2 separate regions of the Homo sapiens genome follow, and region 2 is reported to be linked to region 1. Evidence: microRNA targets listed by miRTarBase, many of them from high-throughput screens and not tested one by one. Region 1 holds a microRNA gene; the other region holds the end of a gene's coding sequence.
Evidence for each region. The annotated mature microRNA hsa-miR-4533 reads UGGAAGGAGGUUGCCGGACGCU and lies in region 1 at 1,578-1,599, shown strand. An mRNA with a match to its seed (bases 2 to 7 or 8) in the 3' UTR can be bound and repressed. Matches are read on the target gene's strand: a 7mer-m8 pairs with bases 2 to 8, a 7mer-A1 pairs with bases 2 to 7 and ends in A, and an 8mer does both.

Region 2: miRTarBase lists RPL35A as a target of hsa-miR-4533. Seed matches in the 3' UTR shown: 7mer-m8 at 3,155-3,161.

Annotation. Positions count from the first base shown.
Region 1 is chr20:60,476,542-60,480,689 of GRCh38, forward strand. It overlaps MIR4533 (microRNA 4533), which reads left to right and starts at 1,570; the gene lies at 1,570-1,640. It overlaps LOC124904944 (a long non-coding RNA gene), which reads left to right. Exons shown (of 2, transcript XR_007067683.1): 2 at 1-4,148.
Region 2 is chr3:197,955,357-197,959,356 of GRCh38, reverse strand. RPL35A (ribosomal protein L35a) reads right to left here. Exons shown (of 5, transcript NM_000996.4): 5 at 2,747-3,607. The coding sequence ends at 3,584. The region is part of intron 2 of DRC9 (dynein regulatory complex subunit 9); the gene reads left to right. Among named protein-coding and RNA genes, the nearest start is that of DRC9, 2.6 kb to the left of the region's middle. RefSeq lists an enhancer at 1-363.

The DNA.
Region 1 (4,148 bases):
ACTCCAGCACACTGGGCCTGTGAGAAACAGATTGAGCTTGCACCTTCAAGGCCGTTGTGATCAATGGGAGAGCAGACATGCAAACAATGGAAGGTAAGGGGGCTGGTGTCACCTGAGGATGAGGAGAAGGCTAAGCAGAGGCAGGAGAGAGCCTCTCTGATTAGAGAGGCAGAGATGGAATCCGAGAGTCTGGCATCAAGGGGAGCCTAGAGCATGAACATGATGCTGTTCAGCTGTGTCTGTGTTCACAGAGGCACTGAGACGGGTACCAGGGTGTAGATGCCAAGGACGGAGAACATTTGAAGAAGGCATGGACAGTTGGCAGAGGCAACTGAGGTGCTAAGTGGGAGCAGATGGGAGGGGCACTGGGGATGGAGGAGCACCTTGGGGCTCTGAGAGACTGGCTTTGAGGGCACTAGCCCTGAAGCCTGTTCTGTGGGTTATAATCCAAGCCAAGTGGTATCTCCTTTAAAAAAGGTGGCCAGATTTCTGATGGCATCTCTTCAAGGTATACATCCATGGCAGGGATGAGTCAGCACCCAGCCTTGCTGGACATGGAATCAGGCCACAGAGCCTGGTCACGTAGTGCCATGTAAGTTTCAGTGGGAAGCCTCTCTTACAGTATACCTGGGCATTTCCTGTGTCTCCTCCCTGAAATGTTTTCTGAACAACTTCTGAAATGTCAGTGTTTCTCTAAAAGAAAGTGAGGAACCTCTGTAAAACACCTTCTTTTTCTTTTGAAATGGGATCTCACTCTGTCTCCCAGGCTAGAGAGCAGTGACTCCATAACAGCTCACTATAGATAGCCTCAACCTCCAGGGCTCAAGCAATCCTCCCACCTCACCCTCTGGACTAGCTGGGACTACAGGCATGTGCTACCAGGCCTGGCTAAATTTTTTTCTTTTTTTTATAGAGACAGGGGTCTCCCTATGTTGCCCAGGCTGGCCTTCAACTCCTGAGCTCAAGCAATCCTCCCACCTTGGCCTCCCAAACTACTGGGCTTACAGGCATAAGCCACTGTGATTCTTAAACCCTGCCCATCTCTGCCTACTCCTCTCCCCAGACCACAGCTCTCTAGGACTAACTCCTATTTAGGAAGCATAGAGAAAAGTCTGACAATTAAAAGTGTTTTGTTTGTTGGGTGATGAATTTCCAGGGCCTCCATCTACTGTGTAGCACTTAATCGTTACTTTTCGTAATATTGTGACTAACCTTCCTGGCCATGAGAACCAGGCTGTCTCTCTTTGATGTACGGTGAGGATGCTGGAGTTGTTTTGCTAGGGCTGAAAATCCTGTGTGCCTCTAGATGTTAGATTTCCCTTGGAAAAAGGCTGTATGGGGCCAGTACAAAGAGAATTGTTTATGCTTCTGTGAGGAGATGCCAAAAAATATATAAGAACAACAACAACAAAAAATCCGCCATCAAATTTACTCCTTAAGTTTACTGACAGCCTGTCACAATGAAATAAAACATTTATATTCACTTTATGGACTTAATTTAAAATGACTTAGTTGAAGAAAGCAGCCCCTTGCTTTGAACTACCTGCAATCCGAACACGAAACTCGTCATGAGAATGTGGAAGGAGGTTGCCGGACGCTGCTGGCTGCCTTCCAGCGTCCACTTCCCTTTCTCTCTCTCCTGACACAGCTCCGTCGTGTGTTTGGTCCCCAGGCCTGAGGTCTCTGTGCTGCCGGGGAAGCTGACCATGCTAGTTCCAATGGTGGCCTTGGTTTAGAAAATGCAAAAAAGATCTCTGCAGGTCAAACAGCGATAAGGAAAGGTTAGCAGTGAGAATTCATCAGACAAGAAGGTGCCTGAGTTTTGGCACAAGGTCACGTTCACTCTCTGCTTTTGACTGTGCTGCTTGTTTAGGCACAGAGATGCTGTGGCTGAGTGTCTTGCTGGTGGAGGCTGCACATGCAGCCCTGTGGGAGGTGGAGCCGGTACGGGCAGATGATGTCAGATGTGAAGCGTGCCCACCTGCTGGACTTCCAGGAGGACTAGGCAGATAACTGCCCTGGTGTTTCAGGCACTTTGAGCTGGGGGTTCCGTTGTTTGTCGATGAGAGAGTCCCTGGATGCCAAGAGCTTTAGAGCATCTTATCACTCACGTTGGAGTTGGGACCAAAGCGATTCAAAGGAGGCCACAGTCAGCTGTTCTCAGCATCTGAAGCCCATGACTTGCATCTTTTCCAGAGGCAGCATCCCAGGCTGTGACGGCCAGCCAGGCATCCCCGGCATTCTCCCCGTCCTGCCCAGGAGAAAGGGCCCTGTGACTGCATGACACTCCCTCTTCCATCATCCATGTTGCAGCCCCTCCAAGCTGGTTAATGGAGAAAAGGAATTTCAGAGGCTTAGGGGCTTGCTGCTTTGCCAGCATTTCTGAAAGGCTTCAGAGCAACTTTAAGGATTTTTACAACAATGGCAGTGCTTATTTGAATGATCTTGTACTTTTACCAACACAGTGCAAAGCCCTCCACATGCATCCCAGCACCCTAGTTAAGACAGCCCTGTGATGTGGGCCCCTGAGCTCTCCCTGCTGCACGAATGAGGAAACGTGCCCGAGAGGGTCCTGGCCTAAGGGGCAGCCTCTGGACTCGCACCCAGGTACTCCTCCTGTGCTCCTCAGGTGCTGTCATGGCAGCTGCTCTGAGGTCTCAGCACTGCCTGCCCCAGCATGGCCGAGTTGGGCAGAAGTGCTGGAGCGGAGGTTTGCCTTCTGTATGGCTGCCTCAGCCAGACCCACGCATGACTCTGGAAGATTGTGTGGCGCTCCTGTGCTGTGCACCGTGGTGTCTTCAATGTCACCAGCAATCTGAAATGATATTCATATTTTCTAAGGTCAGCAGGGCACAGCACACCCAGGAAGCATCTGATACTTTGGAAGAAATCTGGTTTGATGATTATTAGAATTGCAAGAGTAGCTGTCTTTTAGTAAGTTTCCCCCTACTCCCATCAGCAAAGTGATAAGCACTTTCCTTCATCATCTTACTTCTTCCTCTCATCAATGCTATACAGCAGGAATCAGTGTCTCCATATCCCAGGGGAAAAAACGAAAGGTCAGAGAGGTTATGTTCAAGATTACACAACTTGAATATTGTAAGCTCAAGATTCAAACCCAGATCTCTCTGAACGTCAGAAAAGCCTGGACTCTTTACCATTACTGTATTTATTTAGACAAATACAGTTGTATGTATTGATAGTGGACAAAGTATTTCCATCTATGCATAACATTGTGGGATGAGCAAACCAAGGTGATTGACATGGGCATTACTTTACATATATATCTTTGTGTGTGGGTGTCTAGTGAGAACACTTACCTACTCTCTTAGCAATTTTCAAGTATCCAATACATTGTTATTCACCATAATGACTATGTTGTGGGATAACTCCCTGAGCTTCTCTGCGCCCACCCCCCTATCTAAATGACATTTTGGGTCCTTTCAAATCACCCTTATTTCTCTCCCCCAGCTCTAGACCTACAATCTGCTCACATTGGTGAAGTGAAAGCACCTGCAGGATTGAATTTACCCAGTAGGTTAGGACCCTGCATGCTCACGGAACCGCCCTACCCATCCTGCCTCCCCACCTGGCTCTGCCTCCTAAATGGATAGATACATGCTGTTCTAAAGTTGGCCAAGCTCTATAGTCTCCTTGGGAAAATAACAACCTTAGAACATGGGACAGCCCTGTACTCACAAATTGATGTCATAGCCTAAGACAACCAAGGCAACAGAGGATTCTCAAGAAGGTAGTGGAGGGGACAAATAACTTCTACCTCAGGAGATCAAAACGTGAAGCCACTGGTCACTATTCTGCTGGCTTACACTGATGTTTACTCACCATGACATATTAATGAAAGGCTTTTAATGTCAGTCATTTCAATCACAAATCCTTACAAAATAAGCAAAGTGTTACTCTTGCTCCATGAACAGGATACAGAGATTCCTGCTAAAATCACCCCAAGCTCAACCCTGACCTCACCTGCTTTAATTATGCGTGAAGTAAGTCAAATTCCTTTGCAACAAGCAGGCATTCATTATCTATAATTCCTATTTTATAACTTTTTTGTTTGATCTATCCCAGAATTCATTCTGAAGAAATTCAACAGAATAAATGATCATTTTCCCTGACCACTTGACTGCTGC
Region 2 (4,000 bases), not on the chromosome of region 1:
CCAAACCACATTTGTAACTTAGGAAACGTGCCCTTTCCACTACAATACCACAAATAAATTGCTATTGTGAATAAAGAATGGAACCAGTCATCCTAAGCTCCTGGCTGTAACAATAGTGTTATGCTGAGGAAAGGCTGTTTCTTTTTTTTTTGAGACGGAGTTTCACTCGTCGCCCAGGCTGGAGTGCAGTGACACAATCTCGGCTCAATGCAACCTCTGCCTCCCGGGATCAAGCTATTCCCCTGCCTCAGCCTCCCGAGTAGCCGGGATTACAGGCACCCGCCACCACGCCCGGCCAATTTTTATGTTTTTAGTAGAGACGTAGTTTCACCACGTTGGCCAGGCTGGTCTCAACCTCATGACCTCAGGTGATCCGCCCGCCTCCGCCTCCCAAAGTGTTGGGATTACAGGCGTGAGCCACCGCGCCCAGCCAGGAGGCAAAGCTGTTTCAATGGTGTAGTGGACAAGTTACCAGCCACGCAAGCCCTTTCCTGTAAACCACAGGACTCCTCCTTTGGCAACGGTGACTTGAGTACTTTTGACTTAATTTCCATATGGGAGGAGAAAAACATAAAAACATACATTTATTATTTACAAATGCTGCATCATCTCAGTAAGGAAGAGCATGTATTTGCTTTTGAGTCTCATTTGCCATTGCACATGTAAGTTACTCGAGTTAAAGTCTCAACCGTTTGTTTTCCCCCGCTTTGCTCAGATGCCTACCACTTACCGTGTGTCTGTTCCACTCAGAATACCATCCACTTCTCCATATGCCTAACCCAGACCTGAAATACCCATCTGTCTTCATGGATATGTCCACAGGTTAACATCTTACAGCTTCCTCAAATTCAACTTTAGCTCCTCCCACAAAACCATCTCCTGATTCCCCAACTTTGTAAATGCACCATTATCCATCCAGCCCCCAAAGCCAGAAACATGTTAGAATTCTCCATTTGAGACTGAAAAGCCCACCTAATTTTCCCTTGTTTATGCTGGGATGCCATTGGGATTTGAAATAATCTGAGCTGGTGGCTCATATCTGTAATCCCAGTACTTTAGGAGAACAAGGCAGGGGGATCACTTGAGGCCAGGAATCGAGACCAGCCTGGGACCCCGAAAAAACATTTTAATTGGCTGGACGTGCCTGGCATGCACCAGATTCTCTGGAGGTTGTGGGCAGGGGATTGTCTGAGCCTAGAAGTTCAAAGGTGCAGTGAGCTATGATCACACCACTGCACTACAGGCTGGGCAACAGAAACCCTGTCTCAAATGAGTAAATTTTAAAATTTCCTGTGAATCAAGTTCTTCAGTGACGTTGTATTACACTCAAGAACAATCTTAAGCCTAAGATCCTCAGTTCAGTACAGGAGACCTCTCATGTGGCATTTTAGTTTTCTGGACTTTCCAGTCAGCCACTTGTGTTCCTAAAATCTTCCTGCCATTTCCTCTTTGAGATGCCGCCCTATTTCTTCCTCTACACTTTACGGTTTTATGTTACGCAGCCAGTATACCTACATGCCTCTATCCCTGAATACCCCGAGTACTACTGATCACATCTACTTAACTGGCACAATGAACACAGTAGGTACTTTTAGCTTATGTTGGCCTTTTGGAGTGGGTGTCCAAGATCAGCACTTCCTCGCGCTGACTGCGTAATTCCCAAGTTCAATTTCATTAGCATTCTAATATACAACTTCCAACTTCCGGCCTTGAAGTACTGCTCACTTCTGGTGAATACAGCATCAGTGCACTTTGTTTGCCTTAAAACCACAATCCTGGGAGGCTGAGACAGAATGGCGTGAACCCGGGAGGCGGAGCGTGCAGTGAGCCAAGATTGCGCCACTGCACTCCAGCCTAGACGACAGAGCAAGACTGTCTCAAAAAAAAAAAAAAAAAAACCACCACAATCCTAATAAATGAGCCTGGCAGAGTACTAACACAAGCCCATGTCCACGAAGCACGGGACTCCAACAATGGCAGCTTTGGCTTGCATACCACCATTGGACTGACCAAACCTTTCTTAGAACTGCCAGTGTGACAGAGGGACCTCTGGGGGAGGGCGTCTTGCTTTCTCTTGGGTCAGTATATCTCACTACCCTCTTTGTAGGTTAGCAGATTTGTAACAGGATGTTACTGGAGGAAGGGGAAGTGGGAAAGCTGGACAGTATTCCCACTCTTTTCCCTTACTACAAAAACTTTCCTTCTCAGTCCTGTCTCCAGGAGATGGAAGACCAAATAACACAACAGCCAGTGTGCTTTTCCTACCCAATCCTTTCTTTCACCCTCTTATCCTAATACATTTCCAGCATGTTAATTCTTTTGCAGCATAGACAAGAGAACCCATACACGCTGCAAAACTGCAAAAGGGCTTAGGTGGCAAACTCCCAGTTTCTTGTTGACATTTTCAGTGCAATTTAAAGATGTTAATTTAAAAAACTACCTGTGCTGTAGAGATCAGTAACCCTCAGGGGGCAGACAAAAAGACTGTTACTGCATCAGTTAGAAATGTAGTACTACCTGGGCAACATAGTGAGGCCCATCTCCACAAATAACTAAAAAGTTAACTGGTTGTGGCTGCACATGCCTGTGGCCCCAGCTATTTAGGAGGCTGAGGCAGGAGGTTTGCCTGAGCCGAGGAGGTTGAGGTTGAGGTTGCAGTAAGCTGTAATCACGCCACTGCACTCCAGCCCAAGCAACAAAACAAGACCTTGTCTTCAAAAAAAAAAAAAAAACCATACAGCAAAACTGATGCCTTAGTTGTTTTATTTTAGCATATCCCCAAGAAATCTAAAATATTTAGGAGGCCTGCTTAAAGTGCAATCTTGAACTTTACCAGATTAAAACATGAAGCCAAAGAAAGCTGCCACCTTTCCGTGCACTATTCCCAACCTCCATGTACCTACCATAGGATTGCTTTTTATGAGTGGAGTAATATGGCTTAATTTTATTTTAATATACTGGAATGCTTTGTCCAGTCACAAGTCCCAAGAGCTTCTCATCCCAGTCTATCCAAATGAACTGCCAAAGCCCATCAACATAATCTCCATTCAAATTTTAAGTTTCCCAATCTGCATTGAACAAATGCATAGTATCACAAAGCACTTGGCAGGTGTGGTGGCTCATAACTGTATCCCAGCACTTCAGGAGAGGCCAAGGAAGGAGGATTGCTTGAGCCCAGGAGTTTGAAGCCAGCATAGGCAAGAGTCAGACCCTCTCTACAAAAAATTTAAAAATGACCCAGGGATGGTGGCATGAGCCTGTGGTCCCAGCTACTTCAAAGGCCAAGGGAGGATTGCTTGAGCCTTTGAATGTGAGGCTGCAGCGAGCACCACTACACTCCAGCATGGGCAACAGAGCAAGACTCTGTCAAAGATACTCGCATTAAAACCCGTTCCCTTCTAAATCTCTGTACTCGCCCTGTAATTTTCATCACATGTCTCTCTGACCCCCTTGTACTCCAAAAATGCTGAGCAACCTCTATCATTTTAAGCATGTAGCAAATCAATTTAAGGTAGTAAGTTTTTTAATCCACTTAAAAATACAAGAGCACAAATCCACATTTATTTATTGATTTTTCGTTAGTTTAAATCCTTGAGGGGTACAGCATCTGCAGGGAAAAAAGAACACAAAACATTAGGTGAATGTTATATATACGTCTACAAATCAAGAACCGTAATACGGATAAATCTCTGAAAGGCTACCAATTACATGTTCTAGTGGTAAGGAAAGTTTTTATAGCCTTCAGTCTCTACGTGAACATACCGTAAGAACCGGCACTCATAAAAAACATGTACTGGCCAGGTGCTGTGGCTCACACCTGTAATCCCATCACTTTGGGAGGCCTAGGCGGGCAGATCCTAAGGTCAAGAGATAGAGACCATCCTGGCCAACATGGTAAAACCCTGTCTCTACTAAAAAATACAAAAATCAGCTGGGCATGGTGGTACGTGCCTATAGTCCCAGCTACGCAGGAGGCTGAGGCAGGAGAATCGCTTGAACC